Linked DNA regions of Homo sapiens. The protein of the gene in region 1 interacts with the protein of each later gene in a biochemical or structural test. Each region holds a gene or a part of one and is shown in the gene's direction. Other genes may lie near its edges.

Region 1 (7,022 bases):
GTAGCGCACTTGGTTCAGCCTGTCTGTCCTTCATGTTCTGGCCCCCACATACCACAGTGTTCGCCCCAGTTAGCAGGGTGGCTGCATTCCAGCGGCGCGCTGCTAGTGAGCCGGCTGCTAGTGAGGCTGCCGGGGATGCTGCACAGGGCAGGGCACATGCAAGGGTCCTTGTCCCATCTGCCTTTGGCAGAGGGACTTCCTCAGCATGGCTGTTTTGAAAAACAGGTGCAAAATGTGCCTGTACGTGACCCCACACCGAGTCCTGAGCCTCCAGGTAGCTGCCTGTGAATGCACTGCTCTCCTCCCACAGTCTCCACTTGACTGTTGAGTCTGCCGGCGCCCCGCCACGTTACTGTGCTAACTGGATTAATTCACAGGCGTCGGTCACTGGGAGTTTCATGTAATCACATGTAAAAATAACAGTAGCCAGATCTCCTGGCCAGCTGTTAAAAAAAGACCTCAAGTTTTTAAAAAAGTGCTTCCCTGCAAAGTCTAGCCTGCAAGGGGCATGAAATGGGATGCCAGGGGTCAGTCTCTGAAGCGCCTGGGGGCAGGCAGGGGTCCACGGGCACTGGGAAGGCCGCCTTCTGTTCCTAGGTCTGCCAAGCCAGAAGCCCAAGGAGCAGCAGCGGAGCGTGCTTCGCCCGGCAGTGTTACAAGCTCCGCAGCCAAAGGCGCTGTCCCAGACTGGTAAGAAACAGCAGCCCTGGCGCCCAGGCCCAGACGGCAGGGTAGAGCGTTCCCGAAGTCGCACCCGGGACAGCAGTGTTGCGACAGAGGTGACTGCTGAATGCACCAGAAATACAGAGAGATCAGGGAAGATGATCCTTTAAATCACCCCCCAGCCGTCTCCAGCCCCAAGCCTCCTGAGCCCTGGCAACGGAGAAGGGAGAGGCGGCTCCACAGCTTCCTCACAGCTCTCGGCTGAGTGTGACTGTGTGGGTGAAACCTGCTTTGTTCATTCACTGTCTTCATAAAAGCAGGCCGGCTCCTGGGAATGAGATTTATCCCTGTGTGTTTGCAGATAGAATTTCAGCCTCAATTTTCACAGGTTATCTTTAAAAACTTGAAAGGTCATTTTATTTATTTATTTATTTATTTATTTTGGAGATGGGGTCTTGCTCTGTCACCCAGACTGGAGTGCACTGGTGCAATCATAGCTCACTGCAGCCTCGAACTCCTGGGCTCAAGCGATCCTCCCACCTCAGCCTCCCAAGTAGCTGGGACCACAAGTGTGCACCACCACACCCAGCCAGTTTGTTTTATCTTATTTTAGAAACGAGGACTTGCTGTGTTGCCCAGGCTGGTCTCAAACTCCTGGCCCCAAGCATTCTCCCCGCTTCAGCCTCCCAAAGCACTGGGACCACAGACATGAGCCACTGTGCCCGGCAGGTTTCTCTTTTTTGTTTGTTTCTCTTGTTTTTTTTTAAATCCAAGAATTTTGGCTCTTTGTAGAGATACCAGGTCCTTCCTTAAAAAGGAGACATGTGCTGTGGGCTTTACCATGGGAGGGGCCCTAGACTAGACGTGGCCCAGCCCCTCAGCTATGTGAGTGGGGGTGGGAGGGCCGCCAAGCACCTGTGATTCCCCACTCTCCTTCCCTCCCACAGTCCCCAGCAGTGGCACCAACGGGGTCAGCCTCCCAGCAGACTGCACGGGGGCAGTGCCCGCAGCATCCCCTGACACTGCTGCATGGAGAAGTCCTTCCGAAGCTGCCGATGAGGTGTGTGCACTTGAGGTCAGTGGGTCCTGAGGCAGGGAAGCGCTGCATGCTAGGCCCCTTGGGAGCGGGAGGGCAGCCTTCCCAGCATGCTGTGGAGTCCACACGCTGTCACCTGTTCCAAGCAGTTTCCACGTGGGCCTATTGTAAGGCTCTCTGGATTTGCTCAGTAGGCTCTAAATAACAGTACCTGACAAACCAGATCTAGATTCCCAAGGGTGGTCTTGCTGGTCAGGCAGAAGAAGAGTGTCTCCCAAGCAAGCTCTGCCGGAAGGACCTGTTGCCCAGAGTTCTGCCGGAAGGGCCTGTTACCCAAGGCTGACCGCCACATGTCTCACGGGAGTGATCCTTGAGGGAGGACCTGAACCACTGCACTCTGAGGAGTCACTAGGGCCCGAGGAACGGCTGTCACTGATGGGTGTCTTGCAATGTTTAACATGAGGAATGTCTCCCCTCTCTGTGTCCACACCCAAACCACCCCTCAGAGACTCCTATCTGTGTGGTTCCAGTTGAAAATTTTTCTTTGGGAGTCATCTCAGAAATAGTTTGTTTAGGCCGGACACGGTAGCTCACACCTGCAATCTCAGCACTTTGGGAGGCCGCGGCAGGTGGATTGCTTGAGGCCAGGAGTTCAAAACCACCCTGGGCAACATAGCAAGACTCTGTCTCTACAAAAAATACACAGATTAGCCAGGCATGGTAGCATGTACCTGTAGTCCCAGCTACTCAGGATGCTGAGGCTGGAGGATTGCTTGAGCCCGGGAAGGGGAGGCTGCTGTGAGCCGAGGTCACACCACTGCATTCCAGCCTGGACGACAGAGCCAGACCCTGCCTTAAAAAAAGAAATAGTTCCATTTAAGCGGGGGTATGGTTTGGATTATATGGGCCAAAAGCTTTGTGTTTCACAGCCACTGTGAAATAAGGGCCTTTGATGAAGAGCCTCCTTTGAAGTTGGCAGAGATGGGTTTGAAGTCAGAATTAGGGTAACACCATGTGGTATCTTCTGTGTAAAAGCCAGATTGGATCTTTGTGTTTATTTTCCGCTCTGTGTCCATGGCCTGCAGTTTTATACCCTCCATCCCCAGTAGATGTTCTGGCTCAAAGGGTGAAAATGGCTGTCCACAATTAAATTTGAAAACATCCTCACGCCCTTTTTCAAACGAGTTTGCTGAATTGGAAATAGGGATCATTTCCACCGCATTCTGCGGCTTGGAAGCTTTGACTGCTGAGGTCTCCTGAGCAGATCAGGTGTGCAGTTCTGAGTTGGAGAAGGACTTAGAAGTGACCCAGCCCGTCCCGCCATCTCCCAGTGTCTCTGATTGTCCCCGATGGTGAGTGCACAGGCTGACCTGGTAGCACCCGCTACCGAGAGCTTGTTCCTCACTGGAGAGGCCTTGCTGTGTCCCATCCCAGGGGACGGAGTCCGTCTTCCTGCCGGTTCCAGCCCCTTCTCAGCAGTGCACACAGCTTGTTCCCAAATGGTTGAGCTCAGAAGTTGTGATGTGCTGGCTGCCATTCCCAGCTCCTGCGTCTGGCTCCAAAGCCACTGCTCCATGTGGGTCTGGGGTGGAGCCATGCGGCCACACCCACGCTGCCCTCTGACCACACCCAGTACTGTTGAGATTCGCCAGGCTCGCTGTGTGTATCCTTCTCTGGCCCTACAGCAGGAGTCCGAGCTTTTCCAAGCCGCCCATGAACATGGCACACACTGCTCATCGGGAACGTGAGCTATGAGGCATCTCCTCTAAGGAGGGCTTAGATGTTGGGGGCGACCCATGGGGGAACTCCTGGTACCGTCTTTGGGAAAGTGGGGAAGAGGCTTCCCCTCCCGCCCCACACACACACAGAGTCTCAGACTGGTTACAGGCCTCGGGATTCGTTTATCAGTTTAAGCGAATCCTCTAAGCAGGCTCCGCCAGGTCATAGACATACCCTGTAGTCAGAAACATTTTGCTGTTTGCCTGCCCCATCTCAGGTGACTCTGTGGGCTCCACCCACCCGGGATTAGCACCAGTCGGTGTGAGCAGGGGGCACACAGCGCAGAAAGCCAAGAGCCAGGGAGTGTTTCTGCTGGACGGGATGCAGGCGGCCCCAGTGGGGCTGGGGATTAGCCCATCCTCTGAGGACTTCCAGGTCGCCAAACACGTTGTGTGTTTAATTTTAAAAAGCCACGTTCACTCTTGCACAGGCACAAGGATGCAGCGTGAAGTCAGCAGTAGCAGAATTTCTAGGGAGCACAGTAGAGAAACATTTACACTTTTCACTTCCTTCACAGTTGGACCAGAAAGTGCCCTCAGCGCTGTGATCCGCTGATTCTGGGCCTGGCATTGTAACTCCAGGCTTCCCTGCCCGCTGGACACGCTGAGCCAGTCAGAAGCTGCCTGCAGCCTTTCTCACCTCCGAGTTCACGGTTGTCAGGTCCCTTCACGACATCTCCCAGGAAAACACTCCCTGCCTCACGTTCATGTCCACTGTACACATCGCCAGAGACTCCAAAGATCTGCCAAAAGCCTTTTAAAATTTCTTTTCAAATTCTACAACACCTTTTTCATCATGTGGTATAGGAAAGACATATACAAATTACTAGCAACTCCATATTCCATTATCTCAAGATAAATGCATTTGGTCTTAGGATATTTAGTTACAAAAAAGTCATGCCTACATGTTGAAAATATTTACACAAAATGGAAATCCTAGAAAGTAACAAGCAGGAGCCACCCTCCAGCTAAGAGGTTCCCGGGTAACCTCCGTCAGTAGTTTGAATTCTCTCTCCCGACTTATTTTCCTGGGCATTCCTCAACACACATACACACCACACATACACACACACACACACCACACACACGGGACTGGATTGGCTTTAACAGAAATGGAATCGCACTTCCGTGTCCCACAAGCTGCTCTCTTCTCTGATCCATGTATTGTGGGCATGTCAGAGGCCTACCTCCCTCTCGGTGGTAATAGCTGTGCTGTACTTTTTTTCCCCCATATTTTCTATTGTAAATTATTTCATTCCTTGGCCAATGATGAGCAACCAGGTTATTTCCTGTCCTCTGCCGGCACTAAGGCTTCTGCAGGGCACAGGTGTTTCTTGTTGTTTGGAGACAGGTTTTTGCTCTGTCACCCAGGCTGGAGTGCAGTGGTGTGATCTCAGCTCACTACAACTCCCAGGCTCAAGCAGTCCTCCTGTCTCAGCCTTCTGAGTAGCTGGGAGTGCAGGCACATGCAGAGGAGACGTGTGGAGTACATGATCTGGTGTGGGATTGCTGGGCATCCGTCTGGGCCAAGTGTGGCACTGGTTTTGATTACTCTGTTTTGTTTTGGTTTTTGATAGGAGAAAGAGCCCCAGAAAAATGAGTCCAGCAATGCCTCTGAAGAGGAAGCCTGTGAGAAAAAAGACCCCGCCACACAGCAAGCCTTTGTATTTGGGCAGAACTTGAGGGACAGAGTTAAGGTATGTGAGCTGTTGAACCAGCACATTGACTTTTTATGCCTTCCCCAGGTTCAACAGCAGGCAAGTAGGTAGATTTTCCTTTTAACAGGGGAGGGGAGCGTGGGACAAAGAAGGTGTTAGCGAGGCAGCCCCATGGCTCACGGCACAGTCTGCTGCTGGTGTGCGTGTGCTGGGCCCTGGCACTTCCCCACCAGCAGCCCAGGCTTCGGAGCCCTCACCTGCAGTGACTTCTCAAGTCAGGGTCCCTGGTTCTCATGGTAGCGGGGACAGGGAAGGTGACTGAACCTGAGGCCTCAGGCTTTCATAGCAGAGAAGAAAGACAGCACGGTCCAGTGTTCTCAGCTCTGCCCAGAGGTTTCTGTTCCCGTATTTCAGGGTTTCTCTGTTTCAGCACTAGCAGCATTACGGCTGGACCATTCTTAGTTTCTGAGGAGTCGCCCTGGGCACTGCAGGGTGCTGAGCAGCATCACTGGCCTCCACCCACCCAATGCTCCTGACATCTGACAACCACAAATGTCCCCAGACGTGGCCAGTATTCCCTGTGGAGTAGAATCGCCCCCATTAAGAACTGTCACCTTATTTTTTTTTAAGTGGGGCAGGGTGGGGTGACAACACTGTCTTCTCTCCTGAAAGGGAGCAAAGCGTCTGCCACCTCTTGGCTGCCCTCCAGACATGTGGTCCTAGTTTGGAGATTGTGTGGTGGGGAAGGGATGGCAGTGGTTGGAAACAGTGGCCCTGGACCATGCACTGGGACTCTAGGAAGACCAGGGTCAGCCAGCACCACCTTTCCCAGCCACAGACATGGAATGTGCTACGGCATCTCTAGCAGCTCCACTGGCAAGAAGCTTCTTTCAAAGCTCGAGAGGCGGTATCGGTGGCTGTGTCTAGAGACTTTTGTGGTTGTCACAACTGGGAGGTACTTCTGGAGGTCAGGGATGCCACTCCGCCCCTTGCAGTGCCCAGGATAGCCACACCACAGGGAATGTTCTGGGCCCAGTGTCAACATGTCAGTAGTGTCGACGGGGAGGGCCCTGAAATAAACAAAAACCTCTCTAGCATGCAGAAAGCACCGGCTTGTGTTTTCTGCTTTCCTTTCTGTTACTCACCGTCCAACAGAAGCCCAAGTCGAGAAACGTGGAAAGTTGATGTTGCTGTTGCCATGGCTTTAGGCAAAATAATGAGTCCCTCAGGGGCTGTTCCCTCCAAGGAGGGAGGGCAAGAGGCGGGGAAGGGCTTGGCCTGTGGAGTTCAGGCCCTGTGGAATCTCTGCCTTGAGTCTGGGGAGACAGCTGCTTTGAATTTGGTGGGGTTGGCTTCTTGCAGAAGTCAGAGGCTTACGTGCACTTCGCAGTCTCAGTCAAATCCCAGCCTCTCCTTCCAGGGCAAACTTGAGCCATGGATTCTTTTTTTTTCTTTGGACACGAAGTCTTGCTGTGTCGCCCAGGCTGGAGTGCAGTGGCATGATCTCTGCTCACTGCAACCTCCACCTCCTGGGTTCAAGCGATTCTCCTGCCTCAGCCTCCCAAATATCTGGGATTACAGGCGCCCACTGCCACATCCAGCTAATTTTTTGTATTTTTAGTAGAGGTGGGGATTTCTCCATGTTGGCCAGGCTGGTCTCGAATTCCTGACCTCAAGTGATTCCCCGCCGCCTCAGCCTCCCAAAGTGCTGGTATTACAGGCACGAGCCACCGCGCCCAGCCAGAGCCATGGTTTCTTAACCCTCTGAGCCTCTGCTTCCTTGTTGGTCAAACAGGGTCCCTAACATCCCCCTCCCAGGCCTCGTGAGGATTAAAGCAGATCGTGCATTTGACAGACTCAGCATAGCAGCTGGTAGGAAAGAGGCCC
Region 2 (6,867 bases), on another chromosome or scaffold:
GCCTTGCTTCATAACCTCTGGTCTGTGCACATTGTTTTCCCTACCTAAGGCCATATTCACTCAGCTCATTAAAATCTAAACGAAATCCAAACCAATATGGCTTTCCTGTGGTCACCAGGGATTTCTCAGCCTTCGGTTATTGCACTTGGCTGCTTTGCAACATTTGGTGCTTTGGACAATGTTCTAGTCCTCAAAACTCTTCTTCCTTGGCTTCTGAGGCACCGCTGTCTTCTGGTTCTCCTTCCCTGACTGACCTTTCTCTGTGCTGCTGGCTTCTTCCTCGAACACCATTTAAATGCTGGGTTTTCGGCCAGGTGCGATGGTTCACGCCTGTAATCCCAGTACTTTGGGAGGCCGAGGCAGGTGGTTCACCTGAGGTCAGGAGTTCGAGACCAACCTGGCCAACATGGTGAAACCCCATCTCTACTAAAACTACAAAAAAATTAGCTGGGTGTGGTGGCATGTGCCTGTAGTCCCAGGTACTTGGGAGGCTGAGGCACGAGAATTGCTTGAACCCGGGAGGCAGAGGTTGCAGTGAGCCAAGATCACAACACTGCACTCCAGCCTGGGTGACAAGAGTGAGACTCCATCCAAAAATAAATGAATAAAATAAAATAAATGAATGCTGTGTTTTACCGGGTGTGGTGGCTCATGCCTGTGATCCCAGCACTTTCGGAGGCCAAGATTGGCAGATCGCTTCAGGCCAGGAGTTCAAGACCAGCCCGGGCAGTATAGTGAGAGGCCATCTCTACCAAAAATTTAAAAAATTAGCTGAGCATGGTGGTGCATGCCTCTAGTTCCCGTTACTCAGAAGAGGCTGAGGTGAGAGAATCGTTTCAGCCCTGGTGGTCCAGGCTGCAGTAGTCCTGATCACACCACTGCATTCCAACCTCAACAACAGAGCGAGATCTTGTCTCAAAATAAAATAAATGCTGGGGTTTCATGTCTTCCCATCACTCTCCTCATTCTTCCAAGACGACTTTAGCCACCATGCTAATTCTTACAACTTCTAAATATTTTATCACCAACTCAGATTTCTTACAGGAAGCCCAACCCCATATATCTAATTGCTCTTTGGACTTATATACAACCAGATGTTACTCAGGTAACTCGTATATACTCCAATGTGGACATTACTCCTCCCCCACTGCCTGCATTTCCACTTATCAAGGTTAGAGACCATAGTATGTTCAGCCTCCTAAGCCTGAAACTCTGGTATCCTCAAGTTCTTCTCTTACCTTGCAATTCCAGTGGGACGACAAACCCTACATCAGAAATGTCTTTTTTTTTTTTTTTTTTTTTTTTTTTTGAGATAGGTTCTTGCTCTGTTGCCCAGGCTGGAGTGCAGTGGCATGATCACGACTCACTGCAGCCTCCATCTCCTGGGCTCAGGTGATCCTCACACCTCATAAGTAGCTAGGATTACAGGAATGTGCCACTACACTCAGCTAACATTTTTTTTAAAATTTTGTAGGCCGGGGTCGGGCGCAGTGGCTCAAGCCTGTAATCCCAGCACTTTGGGAGGCCGAGGCAGGTGGATCATGAGGTCAGGGGTTCAAGACCAGCCTGACCAACATGCTGAAAACCCGTCTCTACTAAAAATACAAAAATTAGCTGGGCATGGTGGCGGGCGCCTGTAATCCCAGCTACTCAGGAGGCTGAGGCAGGAGAATTGCTTGAACCTGAGAGGCGGAGGTTGCAGTGAGCCGAGATCGCACCACTACACTCCAGCCTGGGGGACAGAGTGAGACTTCATCTAAAAAAAAAAAAAAATTTGTAGGCCGGGCACGGTGGCTCATGCCTGTAATCCCAGCACTTTGGGAGGTCAAGGCGGGCAGATCACGTGGTCAGGAGTTCAAGACCACCCTGGCCAATATGGTGAAACCCCGTCTCTACTGAAAATACAAAAATTGGTGGGGCATGGTGACACTTGCTTGCAGTCCCAGCTACTCGGGAGGCTGAGGCAGGAGAATTGCTTGAACCCAGGAGGCAGAGAATGCAGTGAGCCAAGATCGAGCCACTGCACTCCAGCCTGGGCAACAGAGCAAGACTCCATCTCAAAAAAAAAAAAAAAAAGAATTGCTGCGATAGTAAATAATGTACGTAATAAAGCATTCAGAACAAAATCTAATATGTAGGAGGAACACCATAAACGTTACTACTCAAGATAGCCCAGCTGTGATAGCTCTGTCTCTCTAGCCAACGTTTTTCCACCTTACACCACACTAAAAATTCCATCATATTTGCAACATTTCTTATGTATATATATCGTAAGCATTCTTTACTTGCCTACTTCATATTCAGAGGGTTTTGTGTGTGGTAAAATATACATAAAACTTGCCATTTTTAACTAGTTTAAAATGTATAGGGGGCCAGGTGTGGTGGCTCAGGCCTGTAATCCCAGTACTTTGGGAGGCCAAGGCGGGCATCACTTGAGGTGAGGAGTTCGAGAGCAGCCTGGCCAACATGGTGAAACCCGGTCTCTACTAAAAATACAAAAATTAGCCGGGCATGGTGGCATGCCTATAGTCCCAGCTACTCGGGAGGCTGAGGCAGGAGAACTGGTTGAACCTGGGAGGTGGAGGTTGCAGTGAGCCGAGATCACACCACTTCCTTCCAGCCTGGGCGACAGAGCGAGACTCCGTCTCAAAAAAAAAAAAAAAAAAAAAGTCCAGGTGCGCTGGCTCATGCCTGTAATCTCAGCACTTTGGAGGCCGAGGCGGGTGGATTGCTTGAGGTCAGGAGTTCGAGACCAGCCTGGCCAAGATGGTGAAACCCCGTCTTGCTAAAAATACAAAAATTAGCCAGGCACGGTGGCGGGCGCCTGTAATCCCAGCTACTGGGGAGGCCGAGGCAGGAGAATCGCTTGAACCCGGGAGGCCGGGGTTGCAGTGAGCCGAGACCGCGCCATTCCACTCTAGCCTGGGTGACAGAGCAAAACTCCATCTCGAAAAAAAAAGAAAGAGTATAGGGCAGTGCTTTTAATTACATTCATTCACACTGTTGTGCAATGGAGTTTTTTATTTTTTATTTTTATTTATTTTTATCCGGGCCAGGCCTGGAGTTTTTAAACTTTTATCTGATTCGTCTAGGGGCACTTTCATCTTATTTACCTTCACATTTATCAAATTATTTCTTTCACAGGTGACAGAGCAGATTCAATTCCTTTTGATACTCCGTATTTCTCTATATGTATTTTTTTCATTCTGCATTCTTATTATTCCAACGTTTTACTTATTTATTTGGAGAGAGAGTTTCGCTCTGTCGACCAGGATGGAGTGCATCGGCGCGATCTCGGCTCACTGCAACCACCGCCTCCCAGGTTCAAACGATTCTCATGCTTCAGCCTCCCGAGTAGCTGGGACTGGAGGTGCGCGGCACCATGCCTGGCTTATGTTCTGTATTTTTTGTAGAGACGGGGTTTCGCCATGATGCCCAGGCCGGTCTCGAACTCCTGGCCTCAAGCGATCCGCCCCTCACGGCCTTCAGAGCTGCTGTAATCACAGGCGTGAGCCACCGCGTTCGACTCTTCCAAAAACTTTTTGGCCAGTTTATCTAAGGGCATATCCTACAGACTGAGTCCAGTGATTGCACAGAAGTAAACGTCCTCTGCAGCTACATACCTACAAACCTATTTCTGTAACGTACATTCCCCAGCAAGGTCCCGCGGGAAGGATCCACTACCGCGAGAGGCCTCCCAGCCAGGAAGGGGTGGGGCTCAATCTGCAGTAGATTCCCAGAAGCCTCAGTGAGTTTCTGATTCTCTAACTGCGCATGCTTCTGCGCACGCGCAATAGACATTCCAGGACTTCCGGGCACTTCGTAAGGTTTAAAAAGGATGCTTCGCGTTTTCTCTCTCCTTTTTGGAGACAGATTCGCAGTGGTCGCTTCTTCTCCTTGGTAAGTGTGATCCTTGGTAAGTGTGATCAGATGCTTGCCACCGGAGTTGTGGGTCTAATGCTATAGATCAGTAGCCGAGCTTCCCTAGGAAGATCATATAGTATTTTATTTATTTACTTTTTTTTTTTTTTTGAGACGGAGTCGGTTTGTCACTCAGGCTGGACTGCAGTGCTCGTTGCAACCTCCGCCTGCCGGGTTCAAGCGATTCTCGTGCCTCAGCCTCTCCAGCAGCTGGGATTACAGGCACGTGCCACCACGCCCGGCCAATTTTTGTATTCTTAGTGGAGACGGGGTTTCGCTATGTTGGTCAGGCTGGTTTTGAACTCCTGATTTCCGGTGATCCACCACCCTCGGCCTTCCAAAGTGCTGGGATTACAGGCGTGAGCCACCGCGCCTGGCCGGAAATCATGTAATTTAAAACTATATATGGGTGTCTTAGGCGGCATCGGTCCCAACTCTAAAGTACGCGTTAGACGGGCCTGGGCCAGAAGTGGGCCATGGAGACCTCGGGACCCGCAGGGCTGCCGCCCGACCCAGCGAGCCTCTGAAGGTGCACCGCCACCCCCACTGTTTATCTTACTGCCTCATAGTAGGCACATTGTCGTTCTCAATATAATTGCACACAGTTTTATTCTGGATCCTCATTTGCCTTTAAGAATTTTCTCAATTTTTCTTTTTATTTGATCGCACCACTGCAACCTCCGCCTGCTGGGCTCAAGCAATTCTCCTGCCGCAGCCTCCCGAGTAGCTGGGACTACAGGCGTGTACCACCGCGCCTGGCTTATTTTTGTATTTTTAGTAGAGACGGGATTTCACCATGTTGGCCAGGCTGGTCTCCAACGCCTGACCTTGTGGTCCGCCACGCCAGGCCGAAGATTTTCATAATTTGGAAGCATTGCGTTTCGTAATTATGCTTTCTCGTATTTTTGTGATTTGGGTCATTTTTATTTTTATATTTTTAGGATTACAGGCGTGAGCCATCGTGCCTGGCCGATTTGGGGGTAATTAACAAGTCCACGTGTTTCATTTGAATTTAGGATAGCTGGGCCTAATTGTTGTCTTTGCTTCTGCGGTACCTTCCACATAGTACTAACCGCCTATTGTAAAGTAATTAGAATAGCTGAATATGCATGTTACCAGTCTAGAAACCGATTTTTTTTTAACACCCCACTGTGGACAGGGTGGAAACTCGTTTGCTTTCTTGTTTAAGATCTGTAGTAACATGAATGGATGAAATTGTTTCCTATTGGATTCTGTAAATTTATGCGTTACACTGATTGTCCAACGTGGATACACCCGGGAGGTCACTCTCCCCGGGCTCTGTCCAAGTGGCGTAGGGGAGCATAGGGCTCTGCCCCATGATGTACAAGTCCCTTTCCACAACGTTGGAAATAAAGCTGGGCCTCGTGTCTGCGCCTGCATATTCCTACAGCTTCCCAGAGTCCTGTCGACAATTACTGGGGAGACAAACCATGCAGGAAACAGCCTTCTAGAGCACTGAATCTGGATTGAAGTCTTTTTTTTTTTTTTTTTTTTTGGAGATGGAGTCGCTCTGTTGCCCAGGCTGGAGTGCAGTGGCGCACTCCATTGCCTCTGCCTCCCGGGTTCAAGTGATTATGCTAAGTGATTCTCCTGCCTTGGCCTCCTGAGTAGCTGGGATTACAGGCCCCCGCCACCACGCCAGGCTAATTTTTGTATTTTTAGTAAAGACAGGGTTTCACCATGTTGGTCAGGCTGGTCTCAAACTCCTGACCTTGTGATCCGCCAGCCTCTGGCCTCCCAAAATGTTGGGATTACAGGCGTGAGCCACCACACCTGGCTGGATTGAAGTCTTAATACATGTTTAAGAAAAATTGGCTAAAAAGTAGCCAGGCATGATGATAGGTAGCTGGAGGAAGGAGAATCGCTGGAGCCCAGGAGTGACCTATACTCAAACCTATACTCCAGTGCCACTGTACTCCAACCCCAGGCGATAGCATGAGGCCCCTCGTTGAAAAAGTTTAGGGTTTTGCTGTACTAATAGATTAATATCTTGTTTTGCAGGATTTGTTAAGGATTCCAAGTAACTCTTATTTGGTGAGTAAATCTGCTAATTGTTTTTTGCTTATCAGCTCTTTGTCAATGATTTCTGTAATGGAAATAGGATTGAAGAGACTTTTATTCTAGTTGGTCAGGATTTACCTCTGAGGCATTTAATCATTCTCAGAGCAATAGCCAAATATCGACTTTGCTGCATTTTTGTAGGCATGTTGACATAACTTCAACATATGCTCTGTTCTGTAAAAATTGCTTTTTTTAGTCAGCTCATTAAAAGTGCAAAGTAGTAAAAGCTGCCCTAGTGAACTGTAGGAAGCCTAATTGGCTTTATCTACATGTGTAGCCTGAGCTGAGAAAGATACTAGCCCTTGAAAATACTGTGGGTGATTAGCAATATTGGATTTGTCGGTTACTCCAATTCCTCACTAATGAGCATTCCAACGTGGATACCCTGGGAGGTCACTCTCCCCAGGCTCTGTCCAAGTGGCATAGGGGAGCTTAGGGCTCTGCCCCATGATGTACAGTCCCTTTCCACAACGTTGAAGATGAAGCTGGGCCTCGTGTCTGCGCCTGCATATTCCTACAGCTTCCCAGAGTCCTGTGGACAATGACTGGGGAGACAAACCATGCAGGAAACATATCTAGTATACTAGATTTTAAGTTGAAGTAGGATCTTCAGGAGTCTAATCATTATTTCTTTTCTTTTAGGAGAGAAGACGATCTGCACTTCGCATTTTGGCATTGACATTTAATTTTAGGGTCCTTTATATAGAAGGGAGAGTAGGTAAACTGATTTTTTTTTTTAACAGGGAGGGTTTGACAATCTTTGGCAGACTTGGAGCAAAAGATTGAGGTGCATTTCATGCCTCCTTTTGAGAGTCTTGCTCTGTCGCCCAGGCTGTAGTGCAGTGGCGCAATCTTGGCTGCAAC
Region 3 (7,022 bases), on another chromosome or scaffold:
CATGCCTAGCAAATTTTAAATTTTTTAGTTTTACTTCATTTATATTTACATAGTTTTTTCTGTTGTGCTTTAAGCCCCAGTATTTTTATTGTTTTAGAGATTGGGTGTCATTTTGTGTTGCTCAAGCTGCTCTCAAATTCCTGGCCACAACAGTTCTTTTTGCCTCGGCCCTCCGGAATAGTTGGAATTATAGGCATGAATCCCTACACATGGCTGGCTTGTGGTTTTTTTGGTTTTGTTTGTTTTTAACTAAGCTTCTACACTAATGATTTCAGTGATCTAACGATTTTTTTCTTGATTGATATATTGTTGAGTATAGGTCCGTTTATTAATGGTTAGTCGAATGGCTAAACCAGAGGAAGTATTGGTTGTAGAGAATGATCAAGGAGAAGTTGTGAGAGAATTCATGAAGGATACAGATTCCATAAATTTGTATAAGAATATGAGGGAAACATTGGGTAAGTTAATAAATACTGTTAATCTTTACCTTTATAAATCTATTCTGGGGTGGAAATACATTTTAGGAAATGTACTTGTAGTTTCTAAATATTTTCTAAATGTATTGTTACTCATCAATAAAATTCTGCTCATTATTTGCATTTGAAACCATGTTTTTCTTTGTAGTTTATCTTACTCATCTGGATTATGTAGATACAGAAAGAATAATGACAGAGAAGCTTCACAATCAAGTGAATGGTACAGAGTGGTCATGGAAAAATTTGAATACATTGTGTTGGGCAATAGGCTCCATTAGTGGAGCAATGCATGAAGAGGACGAAAAACGATTTCTTGTTACTGTTATAAAGGTATGCAAGGGATAGGTATGAATTAGAATTGCTAAATAAGTATTATGTTGTTACAATAAATAATACAAATTTGTCTTATTTACAGGATCTATTAGGATTATGTGAACAGAAAAGAGGCAAAGATAATAAAGCTATTATTGCATCAAATATCATGTACATAGTAGGTCAATACCCACGTTTTTTGAGAGCTCACTGGAAATTTCTGAAGACTGTAGTTAACAAGCTGTTCGAATTCATGCATGGTAAATCTCTTTCTTTACTATATTTTGCTTTTATTTTTATTGAAGAAAATAAATGAATGTTTTTGTCTTGTTAGAGACCCATGATGGAGTCCAGGACAAAATAAATGAATATTTTTGTCTTGTTAGAGACCCATGATGGAGTCCAGGATATGGCTTGTGATACTTTCATTAAAATAGCCCAAAAATGCCGCAGGCATTTCGTTCAGGTTCAGGTTGGAGAAGTGATGCCATTTATTGATGAAATTTTGAACAACATTAACACTATTATTTGTGATCTTCAGCCTCAACAGGTATGTTAAGCACTGAGCATATGTTATTTTTAGAAAGTAACACTTGTATCAATCTGTATGTATCAATGGAAATAGGAGGGCAACTATTGGATCCAATAGAAGTGTTTCTGATTAAATTTTCTTTCTTTTTTCCTTGAGACAGGGTCTTACTCTGTTGCCCAGGCTTGAGTGCAGTGGCACAATTACGGCTCACTGCAGCCTTGAACTCCCAGGCTCAGGTGATCCTCCCACCTTGGCCTCGTGGGTAGCTGGGACTACAGGCATGCACTGCCATCACACTCAGCTAACCTTTTTCCCCCCCTTGGTAGAGATGGGGTTTTGCCAAGTGGCCCAGGCTGGTCTTGAACTCCTAGCTTCAAGCGATACGCTTGCCTCAGCCTCCCAAAATGATTTTATATGTGTGAGCCACCACGCCCAGCCTGGTTAAATTTTCATAGTGAGACAGATTCTTGACCAGAAGATTGTTAGGCTGTTGTCCTATGTAAAATTATTCCGAACAAACAAAATCAGGTGTTTTTTGTTTTGTTTTGTTTTGGGGTGTGTGTGTGTGTGTGTGTGTGTGTGTGTGTGTGTGTTTGTTTTTTGAGATGGAGTTTCACTCTGTCGTCCATGCTGGAGTGCAGTGGCGCAATCTCGGCTCACTGCAGCCTTGCCTCCTGGGGTCAAACGATTCTCTTCCTCAGTGGCTATGATTAACAGGTGCTTGCCACCACGCCCAGCTAATTTTTTTATTTTTAGTAGAGACGGGGTTTCTCCATGTTGGTCAGGCTCATCTCCAACTCCTGACCTCATGATCCGCCCGCCTCGGCCTCCCAAAGTGCTGGGATTACAGGCGTGAGCCACCACCATGCCTGGCCAGTTTGGGTTGTTTGTTTGTTTGTTTTTTGAGGTGGAGTCTTCCTCTGTCACCCAGGCTCGAGTGCAGTATTGCAATCTCGGCTCACTGCAACCTCTGCCTCCCAGGTTCAAGCAATTCAAACCTCCCAAGTAACTGGAATTATAGGCACCTGCCACCACGCTTGGCTAATTTCTTTGTATTTGTAGAAGAGATGGGGTTTCACCACGTTGGTCAGGCTGGTCTGCAACTCCTGACCACAAGTGATTGGCCTGCCTTGGCTTCTCAAAGTATTGGGATTACAGGAGTGATCCACTGCACCTGGGCCAAAATCAGTTTCAAGACGTTTGTGAATTGCTTGTGTGTGGTTTTCCTTATTAGGGTGTATAACATAAACGTTAAAATGTCTGCTTTTTAAAATAGGTTCATACGTTTTATGAAGCTGTGGGGTACATGATTGGTGCACAAACAGATCAAACAGTACAAGAACACTTGATAGAAAAGTACATGTTACTCCCTAATCAAGTGTGGGATAGTATAATCCAGCAGGCAACCAAAGTAAGTATTTCTACCTTTTCTTAAAAGTTTTCATGGGATTTAACAAGACGTGTTCTTTACAAATGTATTGAATTCAAGCCTTTTAACATGTATGTGTGATCCATAAGTGCTTTTATGTGTGTCTTTCTATAATTTATTATCTGGGCGAGGTGTGGTGGCTCACGCCTGTAATCCTGGCACATTGGAAGGCCGAGGCGGGCGGATCACCTGAGGCCAGAAGTTCGAGATCAGCCTGGCCAACATGGCAAAACCCCGTCTCTACTAAAAATACAAAAATTAGCTGGGCGTGGTTGCACATGCCTGTAATCCCAGCTACTGAGGAGGCTTAGGCAGGAGAATCACTTGAACCCAAGAGGCAGAGGTTGCAGTGAGCCGAGATTGAGCTACTGTTCTCTAGCCGAGACGACAGAGCAAGACTCTGTCTCAAAAAAAAAAAAATAAATGAAAAATCTGGGCCGGGCTCGGTGGCTCACGCCTGTAATCCCAGCACTTTGGGAGACCGAGACGGGTGGATCACTAGGTCAGGAGATTGAGACCATCCTGGCCAACGTGGTGAAACCCCGTCTCTACTAAAAATACAAAAATTAGCCAGGCATGGTGGTGGGCGCCTGTAATCCCAGCTACTCGGGAGGCTGAGCCAGGAGAATGGCTTGAACCCAGGAGGCGGAGCTTGCAGTGAGTCAAGAGCATGCCACTGCACTCCAGCCTGGTGACAGAGGAAGACTCTGTCTCAAAAAAAAAAAAAAATACTGTAATTTCCATTCTCATTTGATATTAAAATAGGAATAGGCTGGGTGTGGTGGCTCATGCCTGTAATCCCAGCACTTTGGGAGGCCGAGGCAGGCGGATCACCAGGTCAGGGGATCGAGACCATCATGGCTAACGCAGTGAAACCCTGTCTCTACTAAAAATACAAAAATTAGCTGAGTGTGGCGGCGGGCGCCTGTAAGTCCCAGCTACTCAGGAGGCTGAGGCAGGAGAATGGCGTGAACCTGGGAGGCAGAGCTTGCAGTGAGCCGAGATCACGCCGCTGCACTCTAGCCTGGGCAACAGAACGAGACTCCGTCCCAAAAAAAAAAAAATAGAACTATATTACTTCATTCTTAAGTAGATGTAGACAAAAAGGCGTTTGTGTTCGTTTTTACCATTTGGGATTATAAATATGGTTTAGGGTAAGGGAAGCGTAATGGCTTTTGCTTTGGTAATTATGTGGATTTTTTTTTTTTTTGAGATGGAGTTTCACTCTTGGTGCCCGGGCTGGAGTGCAATGGCGTGATCTCGGCTCACTGCAACCTCTGCCTCCCGAGCTCAAGCAGTTCTCCTGCCTCAGCCTCCCAAGTGGCTGGGATTACAAGCAAGCACCATTGTGCCTGGCTAATTTTGTATTTTTAGTAGAGACAGGGTTTCTCCATGTTGGTCAGGCTGGTCTTGAACTCCCGACCTCAGGTGATGCACCCGACTCAGCCTCCCAAAGTGCTGGGATTATAGGTGTGAGCCACCTCGCCTGGCCATTATGATGGATAATTCTTTTTTTTTTTTTGAGACGGAGTCTTGCTCTTTCGCCCAGGCTGGAGTGCAGTGGTGCGATCTCGGCTCACTGCAAACTCCATCTCTAGCGTTCACGCCGTTCTCCTGCCTCAACCTCCCGAGTAGGTGGGACTACAGGCGGCTGCCACCACGCCTGGCTATTTTTTTTGTATTTTTAGTAGAGACGGGGTTTCACCGTGTTATCCAGGATGGTCCCGATCTCCTGAACTCATCATCCGCCCGCCTCGGCCTCTCAGAGTGCTGGGATTACAGGCGTGAGCCACTGTTCCCAGCCGTGGATAATTCTTATATGATAAATGGAATTTGCTTTTTTTCCTCCAAGAATGTGGATATACTGAAAGATCCTGAAACAGTCAAGCAGCTTGGTAGCATTTTGAAAACAAATGTGAGAGCCTGCAAAGCTGTTGGACACCCCTTTGTAATTCAGCTTGGAAGAATTTATTTAGATATGCTTAATGTATACAAGTGCCTCAGTGAAAATATTTCTGCAGCTATCCAAGCTAATGGTAGGTGATTCTGATTTCTTACACAATGCAGTATAAACAAACCACTTCTCTTCTACTGCCTTAAGTCAAACATTTGATGTTTTTTACAGATTTAAATCAGACCTCCCATTTCCCAAATGACCCTAGACATATTTAAAACAGTTAAGTGTACCTTTCCCTTTTAAAATTAGTCTTAAAGCTTATTTTCCCAATAAATTTTGTGAACTTTTGGCTTTAAACTTTTTAATGGTAAAATGGAATTGCATCTAATGTACACCTGAGTACCACTGTATAAGTTTAGTGGTAAAATTAGATTCCATTTGATTCTGTTTTGTAGGTGAAATGGTTACAAAGCAACCATTGATTAGAAGTATGCGAACTGTAAAAAGGGAAACTTTAAAGTTAATATCTGGTTGGGTGAGCCGATCCAATGATCCACAGATGGTAAGTGAGAGATGCTTTGCTTTTGATTTCTAGTGTTGATGCTGTGTTTTATGGAATATGCTATACTCTATTATGTGCATTTTGCTAATTTAAAGCATATCAACTTTGTGGTTATTTTATGGCATTTTATTTATTGTAGTCCTTACGTTAATATACTAATAGCTGTATTCCATCTTCAAAAGAAACTGCTGTTAATCAGTAGCGAAGGGTGGTGATATGTAACAAGATAGCTAAGAAAATTGGGTCATTTTATGTTTCCATAGATAGGTTAGGAGGATTTAATTAATGGAGTACCGGTGCAGTTTTTGCATTCCTCTTGATTTTTAGAACAATTGCTAGAGCTACAAAGTTGTCATTACTTTACCTCTTTAGCAAAGTGATTGCTTCCCAGATTAAAGGCCTGAAAGTCTTTTTTACACCCTTTTTCCTAAATGATTTGCAGAAAAGGAAATCATTTTCAGTAATAAAAACCAGCTGCGTATGCCTCAACTTGTAAAATTGTGAATTAGTTTTAGGTTTTAACTGTATCGTTTCATTCTTGTTATTCAATTGAGCCTTGGGAGAGTCCAAAAAATTCTAATACTACTATTACTTGGAATAGTGTTGGTTTTTTGTTTTTTGGTTTTTTTTTTTACAAGTGTGCTAGTTATTTTCATAGTTTTGAAATTTCAGTATTGTTTCTTGTTAAGGAAATACTTTTCAGTAAACTTGTTCTGAATATAATTCTTGTGGAATACTTAAGTTGGCTAACCTAAATATCGAAAGGTTCTGAACATGCGTATTATGTGAACAGAACTGTATTTAAAATTTGAAAGCAGAAAGTAAGATGTATTGAAGGAATTGTGATGTTTGTAATTTACAAGAAGCTTGAGCACGTGTCGGGAGCACAGTGGGAATAATACAAAGGGTATCATCTTTTGTAACATTAATGTTAAAGTTTGGGATATTTGTTCACATGAAACATTGTGTTTATTTTCCTTGTCTTGGCTTTTCACGGTGGCTCATGCCTGTAATCCCAGCACTTTGGGAGGCCGAGGCGGGTGGATCACTTGAAGTCAGGAGGCTGAGGCAGGAGAATCACTTGAACCCCAGAGGTGGAGGTGACAGTGAGCCAAGATTGCGCCATTGCACCCCAGTCTGGGCCACAAGTGGGAAACTTCGTCTCAAAAAAAAAAAAAGAACAAGAAGTTACTCTTTAAGTATAACTCAGTTTACTTAGAATCATGAAAATCTTACTGGGCATTGTAGCATGCACCTGTAATCCCAACCACCAGGGAGGGTAAGGCAGGCGAATCACCCCAGCTCAAGTCCAGTTTAGGCAACATGGCAAGATTCAGTTTCAAAAAAATAATAGAAATCCATAGTCTTTCTTATTTTCTGAGAGTAATTGATTGATGTTATTTCTGCTTGTGAAAATACTCACCAGTTAGCATTCATTAGATTAAAACATTAGTCTGAGTTGGGTGGATCACGAGGTCAGGAAATCAAGACCATCCTGGCTAACACGGTGAAACACCCCGTCTCTACTAAAAATATAAAAAATTAGCTGGGCGTGGTGGCAGGTGCCTGTACTCCCAGCTACTCGATAGGCTGAGGCAGGAGAATGGCGTGAACCTGGAGGCGGAGCTTGCAGTGAGCCAAGATGGCACCACTGCACTCCAGCCTGGGCGACAGAGCAAGACTCCGTCTCAAAAATAAAAAGACAGTATTGAGGGCTCGCTTGCTGCCATCTTACATATACAGTATACGTAGAATCCTGATTCTGCCACCTAAGTTGGAGACACCCACTGAATTTTGAGCCTCACTTTTCTTAT
Region 4 (7,978 bases), on another chromosome or scaffold:
TTGTAAACTGCAGAGTCAGGTTCAGATAAAAGGCTTTATGATGATGACAATTTCATTACTGTTTTCAACCAGGCCACCATTGTTAAGGATGCAGTGTGTCGCTGCTTTCAAAAGTATGGTTTAGTTTGAGATCTTCTGTAATGCCCAGGATAGACAGTAAACACCCAGAAGAATTGTTCTGAAGAAGCCCACTCAAATCTGTGCTAGTCTTTACTTAGCACAAATAGGTACCTATATTGGGATGAAAACTATTTATTTGAAGCTTATAATTCACTCTTTTCTAGCTGCTGCTGGATTGTCTGACGGGTCTTTCCTGGAGTTATGGAATACTTCTCAATTTCAATAGTTGAATAAAGGTGTTTTTTTTTCTGTCATGCAGGCTAGGGTGCAGGGGCATGATCTCGGCCCACTGCAACCTCCACCTCCTGAGTTCCAGTGATTCTCCTGCCTGCGATTCTCCTGCCTCAGCTTCCCAAGTAGCTGGGATTACAGGCGTGTGCCACCAGGTGTGGCTAATTTTGTATTTTCAGTAGAGACGGGGTTTCCCCATGTTGGCCAGGCTGGTCTTGAACTCCTGGCCTCAAGTGATCCACTCGCTTTGGCCTTCCAAAGTGCTGGGATTACAGGTGTGAGCCACTGCACCCAGACTATTTTTAATTTCAATTTTTAAAAAAGTTGCTTTGCTTTTTGCACCAGACCAACTCACCAAGTTATTTTCTATGGATTATACCCGTGCACATAATGTAGTTTCCTGATTATAAATTAAATATCCCTAATGTCCACGTTGAAACACTCTCGAAACTTAAATGACCATAAACTATTTGCCTTGAGTTTGCTGAACTTGTCTTTGGGCTGTAAGAAACTCTTTTCTGCCAAGCTCTTTTCCACATCAGGCCCTTTGCCCATGCTGACCCCTCTACCTGGAAAGTTCTCCCCTGATTATGAAGCTGACTCCTTCTCATCCTTTAGATCAAATGCTGCCTTCTTAGAGAGGTCTGCACTGAACACCTGTTTCAAGTCGTCTCCCGGATCTGTTTCCTTATTTATTTTCTTCACAGCATGGATAACAGTATGCAATTTCCTTTCTATCTGCTGACTTATTTGTCTATGCCTCTTATTATTATGTTGGCTCTTTGTGGGCAGGGCTTGCCCATTGATGTCATTATCTACCTCCAGTGTCCCACACAGTGCTTGGTGCACAATAGCTATCTCATGAACAGATGAACTTATCTGACAAGATCCACTCTAGTATTGTAAGGCTGTGGCCATATATGGCTATCTTGAGGTGAAAGCCTACCCTAAAGACTGTCCAGGACTTGGCCTCTGGTGCTCACAGTTGCCCAGGTTTCTCTCAGGTCGCAGGATGAGCCACAGTGGTAGCATAAGACTGCTGGCTGCTCCCCTCTGCCCCTCCCTAATGGGGCTGCCCAGTGATGTCACACAGGACAGGATTCTCTAATCCTTTTGATTCTGTAACAGTCCTCTAAGCAGCTAAGTTTCTCATAATGTATTATGATGTAGGGGAGGGAGGAAGGAGGGCCAGGGTAGGGGGCACACCCTCTCCCTGAATGAAATTCATTTAGGGGCACTGTCTGCTCGCATGTTCTGTTCTGGGAGAAAATGGGTAGCAGAAGCTACAATTTGTACTAAGCTAATGAAAAGAGAGAAAAGAAGAATGGGGAAGAGAAGGGCAAAGAAGGCAAAAAGAGAAGAGAAGAAAAAGGGAGGAGAGAGAAGGAGAAATGAGAAAAGAGGAAACCAAATGAAGAGGATGTGTGAGAGAAAAAAATATGAAACAGGTAGTGAGGGAGGAAGGAATTGTTGAACCTATGTTCTGGTTGGCTTTCTAACTCTTGAGTAGTGACTGGCTTCAGTGGAAAAGGATGGTGAGGGGTATTCTCAAATACTAGCCTCCTGAGGGGGTCATTTACATTACTGCATATATTTTGAGAGGCCCAGGCAAGTCTGCCTCAAGGGTGACTCTCCTGGAGAGTAATTTGGGAGCAGGAATGTAAACCTTTTTTTAAGTCACAATTGTGGTGGAAAGGGAAAGAGAGTATTGCTGATCAGATTAAGCTTTAGACTCCACACTACAGCCCCTGTCCTCACCCCAAGCCTCCCAATTACTAGGCTATCAACACACACTAAATTCAGGACTTTAAAGCCAATCTTGTAGATAATCTTTTTCTTTGTTAATTGAAATATAAACAGATTTCCAAAGCAGAGCAGGATAGTTTTATAATATACCTATAAAAATTACTAAAATGTCATCATCATGGCAATATATTCCCACTAAAATCTTACTGTGAACATCCCAAATATGTGTAGAGGCCCGGCAAAGTCTTACAGTTCAGAAGAGAACTTTCAATCCTCTTTTTTCAATGTTATTTTCCCCTTCTATCTGTCCCCCCTTCTTAGCATAAGGTTTAATAAAAGGGGATATGATGATATTAAACATATTTAATCAGACAATATTGATATCTTTTTAAAATATTAATCTTATAACCCATGAGTTTCCTAGTTCATACCAAAATGTCCCTGCAAGCTGTATTCAGAAATAAATAGTAGGAAGGTGCTGCTTTATCGGCAGTCTGTACAATGCGTAGACTCCTTAAAAATTTCTTTCTGTTCATATTTTCTATTTCTCTCCCTCTTCTTCTACAATTGACCCAGATTCTCCAAGTGCAGAACAGAGAGAAGAAAGGTGTGGAAGCCTAAAGGAAGGAAGCAGAAAGATAGGCAGGCATTTCAAGTTTTCTATGGTCCACTACCGTCACTAGTGACCCAGCTTCTGCTTATAAATAAGAAAATTTGTCTTTTAAGAGCACTCTAAATGGTTGCCATATGAGCTTTTGTAGTTCAGAATGTTAATGAGTCCACCAGCATGCTACTCATGCTGTTACTTGCCTGGAGTATTAAGGATTCCAAGAAGGTAGCGTTTCAAAGATCTCTGATCTAATTTCTTTTTTTGGGGGGTCGGGGAGATATGTGGAGAATTAGGAAATGTATCCTCAGATGATACTGAGACCAAATGCATAGTGAATTTTATTTTTATTTTGTATATGTGGAAATGATCCACGATCATCTTCTAAGGAATTCTGGCCGGGAACAGTGGCTCACGACTGTAATCCCAGCACTTTGGGAGGCCGAGGAGGGTGGATCACGAGGTCAGGAAACCGAGACCATCCTGGCCAACACGGTGAAACCCTGTCTGAACTAAAAATACAAAAAAATTAGCCAGGCGTGGTGGCAGGCGCCTGTAGTCCCAGCTACTCGGGAGGCTGAGGCAGGAGAATGGCATGAACCCGGGAGGCGGAGCTTGCAGTGAGCCGAGATTGTGCCACTGTACTAGCCTGGATGAAAGAGCGAGACTCTGTCTCAAAAAAAAAAAAAAAAAAAAAAAAAAAAGTGAAGGAAACAGAACCTTCCCCAAAGTCATGTTGAGAAAATTAGAGATGGCTTTTTACAACTTTAAAAGCAGCAGCTAAATATTTGCTGAATGCCAGAAAGAATAAATAGGTTGCTTTTGATCTAAGAGTTGGGGCAACAAAATGGTTTAGGAGATAGAAAGTAGTAGGGTGCAAATTGCTATAGTGAGCTCCTCAAGTAAAATAGAGAGGCCTTCAACATAAATTTACCTTTTTTACTGGCCAGAACTCAATTTGGCCAGTAAAAGAACCTGCCTTCTACAATGAAGTCTTTGGTTTGTGTGTGCATCAGAACATCTTTTAAAAATACGGACTTTTCTTCTAACTTCTTTTCCTGCGAATGTGGTGTAGGTCAAATTCGTGAACTGGTTAAGCCGCTGACAAGAGAGGGAAGGGCACCCCAGCCAATGGGAACCCGTGCTGGTGATGTACTGCTCCTAGGCTGCGATTCATTGGCTGCCTAGGGTTTGTCATTCTATCCCCGGCGTCTGCAAGCAGCGTGGGTCGGGTTTTCCAGCTAGCTAAACTGGATTTTGGCCGCTGGCACGTGCAGTTTCTATTAACTTTAGCTCATCTCTACCTCTTAATAGAAGCAGCTGTTATGTTTCTGATTATTCTCCTGATTTTGAAAAATCCTGTTCCCTTAACCTACCTCATTGGAGGTCGTTGGAGGTCCCCTGGGACAGAACCACGTGATTATCTAACATGTGCAAATAAATACAATGTGGAATCCCCTGAACTATAGAGGGAAAACCTGCCAGAAACTCAGAGCATGTGCCCCGTGCGTGAATCAGTTGCACTCGCACATTGGTGGGCGGTGGTAGCGTGCTTGTGTCTCTGCCCTTTGGGTCGCGAGGTGTGTGGCCGTGGCACCTGCTTGGGCTTCCTGGGGTCACTGGGAGAGGAAGGCTCTGGAGGAGTGGGACTCTGGGGTAGGGGGGTCTGGCAGCTGCCTGGGACCCACCATGGGTTCGAAGGGCAGCGGCCAGACCGCGACGGCGCCCAAGAAGGGTGGACAGCTTCGGGTCTGTGCTCGGGGCTGCGTGTACACCATCTTCGCAGGGAGTGGGGTTTGTATCTGCAGGCAGGTAGAAGAGCCAGGGCTCCGGGCGCGGACGCCGTAGGGGTAGCTTCCGAGTCCCTACTTGGCCAAGGGCCGGCACGGAGGGGCTGTCGATCTACTGGGCACCTAATAGCCGCACATTCTGTCCAGTCCCTGGCGCCGGAACGTGAAGGCCCGGGTCCTGGCTGCTATCCGGGATCCGGACGCTCCCTTCGGCTTCGGCCTGGTGCTCCAGGCCGTAAGGCAAAGGCGGCGGCAGCAGCAGCGGCAGAGAAAGAAGCTGGGTAAGGCAGTGACGTCATCTGTGGCGGCCCCTCCCCCGCCCGCCAGCCCTCACCGCAGTTCCTGCCCAACGACATCCGGGTCTCTGTAGCTGCGCGCCGCGCCGCAGCTGTAGCGGCGGCGGAGCCAGCGGGGCGGGGCGAGCGGAGGGGTGGGGGAGGGGCGACGCGGTCGTGAGCGCGCCTGCGCGGGGCCGCGCTAGAGGCGGCGGCGGCGGCGGTGGCGGCGCTAGGGACGGGAGCGCGCGCGGGAGCTAGAGAGCAGTGGTCTCGGCGCTCGTCCGGCCCGCAGCTTCGGGTCCTCAGGCGGCTGTTGCTCCGGAACGGGTGGTTGGGGAGGGGGGGGTGGGGGGACTCTAGACAGCTGAGGCGCGAAAGCGATGAGTCCTCGGCTCTTCCTCCTCCTTCTCCGGGACCCGCTCTCTGCCTCCCTCTCCAACGCCCGGATGATCTGAGCCGCGAGGGCGCCGACAGCCGGGGGCCCGGACGCAGCCCGGCTCCTCCCCTCCTCCGCCCCTTCCCCAGCCTGACCTGGCCCGCCGCTGCAGCGGTGACCCCTCCCCCGGCTGCCGCCGTCGCCGCCGCGGTGACCCCCTCCCCGGCTGCCGCCGCCGCCGCCTCGGCCGACCAGGGACCTGCCCGCCTGCGGCTGCTCCGGGTAAGTGCGGCGCTCGGGCCGACGGCGGGCTGGCGGGCGGTGCGGGCCTGCGCGGCGGCGGCGGCGGGCAGGCCTGGGGCCTGTAAACAAGCCGGGCGTCTGCCCGGGCGCTCCCGGGAGGAGACGCGACAACTCCACCCCCTGGCCGGCCTCCTCCCCCGAGCCGGGCGGCGGACGGCGAGGGGTTAACGCTCGGCGAGGGCGGTGGCGGGGAGGCGGGGGCGGGGTGTTAGTTGCGGTGGCGCGGGGAGGGGGCGCGACCCTCTGGCCGTCCGCGGCCGAGATGGGTGTTTGTGGCGGCGAAGCAGGCGACGGCCGCAGGCCGGCCTGGCCGGAGAGCGGCCTGCAGAACTTTTCCCGAGCGGGGAGGGGGCGTCCCCGCGCCCCCACCCGCTCGGGCGCGCCGCCCCGGCTGTCCTGGGCTTCAGCCCCTGGGAGGGAGGCGGGGAGACTTCCTTTGAACCGGGCTTAGCCTCGAAAAACCTAATTCTGTAGAAATTGCTTAAGGTTTTACAGGGGGCAGGGCTGAGAGACTCCTTCAGAACTCAAGTCAGTGAGTGATGCCTCTAGTTCATTCATTATTAAGGCATCGAACAAATCCATTGAAGTAAATTCCGATTTCTTATCCTTTTAACTACGTAAATCGGGTAAAACTTCTTGATGTTAGAGCTTGGTTGAGGTATGGTTCTGTTCTGCTTGTAGATTTTAAATAAACTTGGAGCCTTTTCTTGAAAGACAGCTGGCTGTGGAGAGCCTTCTACCAACTGCAGTTTTAGATACGTTTTGAAAATTTCATCACCTGAGGTATTTTTCTTCTCTCCTGAAACACCACATGGTACAAATCCACAAAAGTCATGCTTCAGTTGTCCAAGCCATGGGATCTGTGTGCTAGCCCCACCTCCCCGCAAGTTTCCTGCTCATTGGAATAATGAGCTGAATGTGTTTTAAGAAGTGGTTGGAAGAGTATGAGAGATAGGTATCATTTTCTCAAAGGAAATGATTTTGACATTATTGAGAGAAATTAGACATTTTAACAATTGTTTTGTAAAACAGTCTTTTCAAACTTGCACGTTGGGGTTTTAAACACAACCACTTTACATGTGTTGCGCTCCGAAAAGTGGAGGGATTTGTTGAAACACTACTCTGCTGAGACTTAGGGTTCCAGAGCACTTGGGAATTTAGCATAGCTTGGTCCCCAACTCTCTTTGAAACACTTTACTTTTATACTTTTATCTTGCTACATATTGGGCCTTTTCCAAAGATTGTATTTCTGTAACTCCTTATTTTACAAATGAGAAAATTGAAAATAAGGAGATTCTCTATTCTTAGATGCTGCTTTTACTGACTTAATGCTTTCTTTACCAATAAATAATTTGAAGCACAAAGTAACATTTCCTAGTGTTATAGTTTTGTTCTTGTTATGTGTAACTTATATGTATCTGATTAAACTTTCAGTCATGTAAGGATGATTACTTTTAACCTGGAAGTTTACAGCAGTACCACATTATTGAAACTATAATGAACTTCCTGCACATGGCAGTTGCCTAAGACATTTTAATTTGATATCATAAAACATTTTTAGATCGGTGAAGTAATTATATTATGGGAAAGGTGTATTAAGACTGATAATGTTTGAAGTTAACTACCTCAATTATATTTGAGAAATAATAGTCATCAAATTGCTTTTTATTTGGCTTGTATCTTTTTATGTATTTTGTGTACATATTGTATCTTTTTACATGAGGGGCTGAGGTATATGACCTGTTGAAGGGAACAGTGCAGTAGGAGACAAGGATTGTTTAGTCATGGCTGTGCTCCAAAATATCTGTGTCCATGGACAAGTCCTTTAACCTTTTGAGTTTCAGCTTCCAAATCAGTAAAGCCAGTTGGGCAGATTATATTATCACATGTACTGTCCAGTTACTACATTTAAAAATTTTTTTTTATCAATATTGTGTGTCTAGTCAACATACCGTTGCCAAATAAATGCCTGTTATGTGTCAGGCACTTAGATGTTTCAGTGTTCTAAGGCTGGATTTCTTTCTCGGTTCTGTTTTATTTAACAAATTCTAAGTTGGTGATGGTTCTTTAGAAAAGCTGTTCTTGTGTTCTTGTAAGCTATTGATTTTTCTTTTGGGATTGGGATGTGTAGGGAAACTCTTGAGAGGAAGGAGGATGGAGATTTCATGGGAGACAAAGGGTGGTTGAGACTACAGGTTTGAACAAGCACAGGACCCTTGGTAGTCTGATGTGAAGGACATTATAAAAACACATTATGAAGGTTTTTTCTGTCACTTCAAGCTGGGTCTTGTTAAACCTTTGAAAATTCTCTAATACCTCATTTGTTTTTGAAAGAAATCTATAGCAACATCATTTTGTCATGTGGTAAATATTGCTGAGCAGTCACTAAATACCTATAGTCTTTTAGTTTGTTCAGATTACATCTAGGCCATTTGTTTACTCTAATAGCTAATAGAATGTACAGCTGATTTTGGTTTAACTGTGCGTGCATATTTGTAATTTTTAACCAAGAAGTGGCATATGTCCA

Evidence for each region.
Region 2: the proteins of RANBP3 (region 1) and RCC1 form a complex in vitro, tested with the Homo sapiens proteins (2 studies listed by BioGRID).
Region 3: the proteins of RANBP3 (region 1) and XPO1 form a complex in vitro, tested with the Homo sapiens proteins (2 studies listed by BioGRID).
Region 4: the proteins of RANBP3 (region 1) and PPM1A form a complex in vitro, tested with the Homo sapiens proteins (one study listed by IntAct).

The regions. Positions count from the first base shown.
Region 1 is NC_000019.10:5,926,120-5,933,141, reverse strand, and holds part of RANBP3 (ran-binding protein 3), read left to right. Parts: intron 1-597; coding exon 598-690; intron 691-1,610; coding exon 1,611-1,738; intron 1,739-5,054; coding exon 5,055-5,174; intron 5,175-7,022. UniProt on the Homo sapiens protein: Acts as a cofactor for XPO1/CRM1-mediated nuclear export, perhaps as export complex scaffolding protein. Bound to XPO1/CRM1, stabilizes the XPO1/CRM1-cargo interaction. In the absence of Ran-bound GTP prevents binding of XPO1/CRM1 to the nuclear pore complex.
Region 2 is NC_000001.11:28,502,185-28,509,051, forward strand, and holds the start of RCC1 (regulator of chromosome condensation), read left to right. Parts: upstream 1-3,858; 5' UTR 3,859-3,900; intron 3,901-4,035; exon of another isoform or gene 4,036-4,143; intron 4,144-5,180; exon of another isoform or gene 5,181-5,387; intron 5,388-5,943; 5' UTR 5,944-5,976; intron 5,977-6,373; exon of another isoform or gene 6,374-6,578; intron 6,579-6,645; 5' UTR 6,646-6,721; exon of another isoform or gene 6,722-6,867. UniProt on the Homo sapiens protein: Guanine-nucleotide releasing factor that promotes the exchange of Ran-bound GDP by GTP, and thereby plays an important role in RAN-mediated functions in nuclear import and mitosis.
Region 3 is NC_000002.12:61,486,351-61,493,372, reverse strand, and holds part of XPO1 (exportin-1), read left to right. Parts: intron 1-319; coding exon 320-458; intron 459-624; coding exon 625-806; intron 807-891; coding exon 892-1,048; intron 1,049-1,174; coding exon 1,175-1,338; intron 1,339-2,596; coding exon 2,597-2,731; intron 2,732-4,601; coding exon 4,602-4,785; intron 4,786-5,101; coding exon 5,102-5,208; intron 5,209-7,022. UniProt on the Homo sapiens protein: Mediates the nuclear export of cellular proteins (cargos) bearing a leucine-rich nuclear export signal (NES) and of RNAs.
Region 4 is NC_000014.9:60,244,248-60,252,225, forward strand, and holds the start of PPM1A (protein phosphatase 1A), read left to right. Parts: upstream 1-4,973; 5' UTR 4,974-5,430; intron 5,431-5,914; exon of another isoform or gene 5,915-6,234; intron 6,235-7,978. UniProt on the Homo sapiens protein: Enzyme with a broad specificity. Negatively regulates TGF-beta signaling through dephosphorylating SMAD2 and SMAD3, resulting in their dissociation from SMAD4, nuclear export of the SMADs and termination of the TGF-beta-mediated signaling.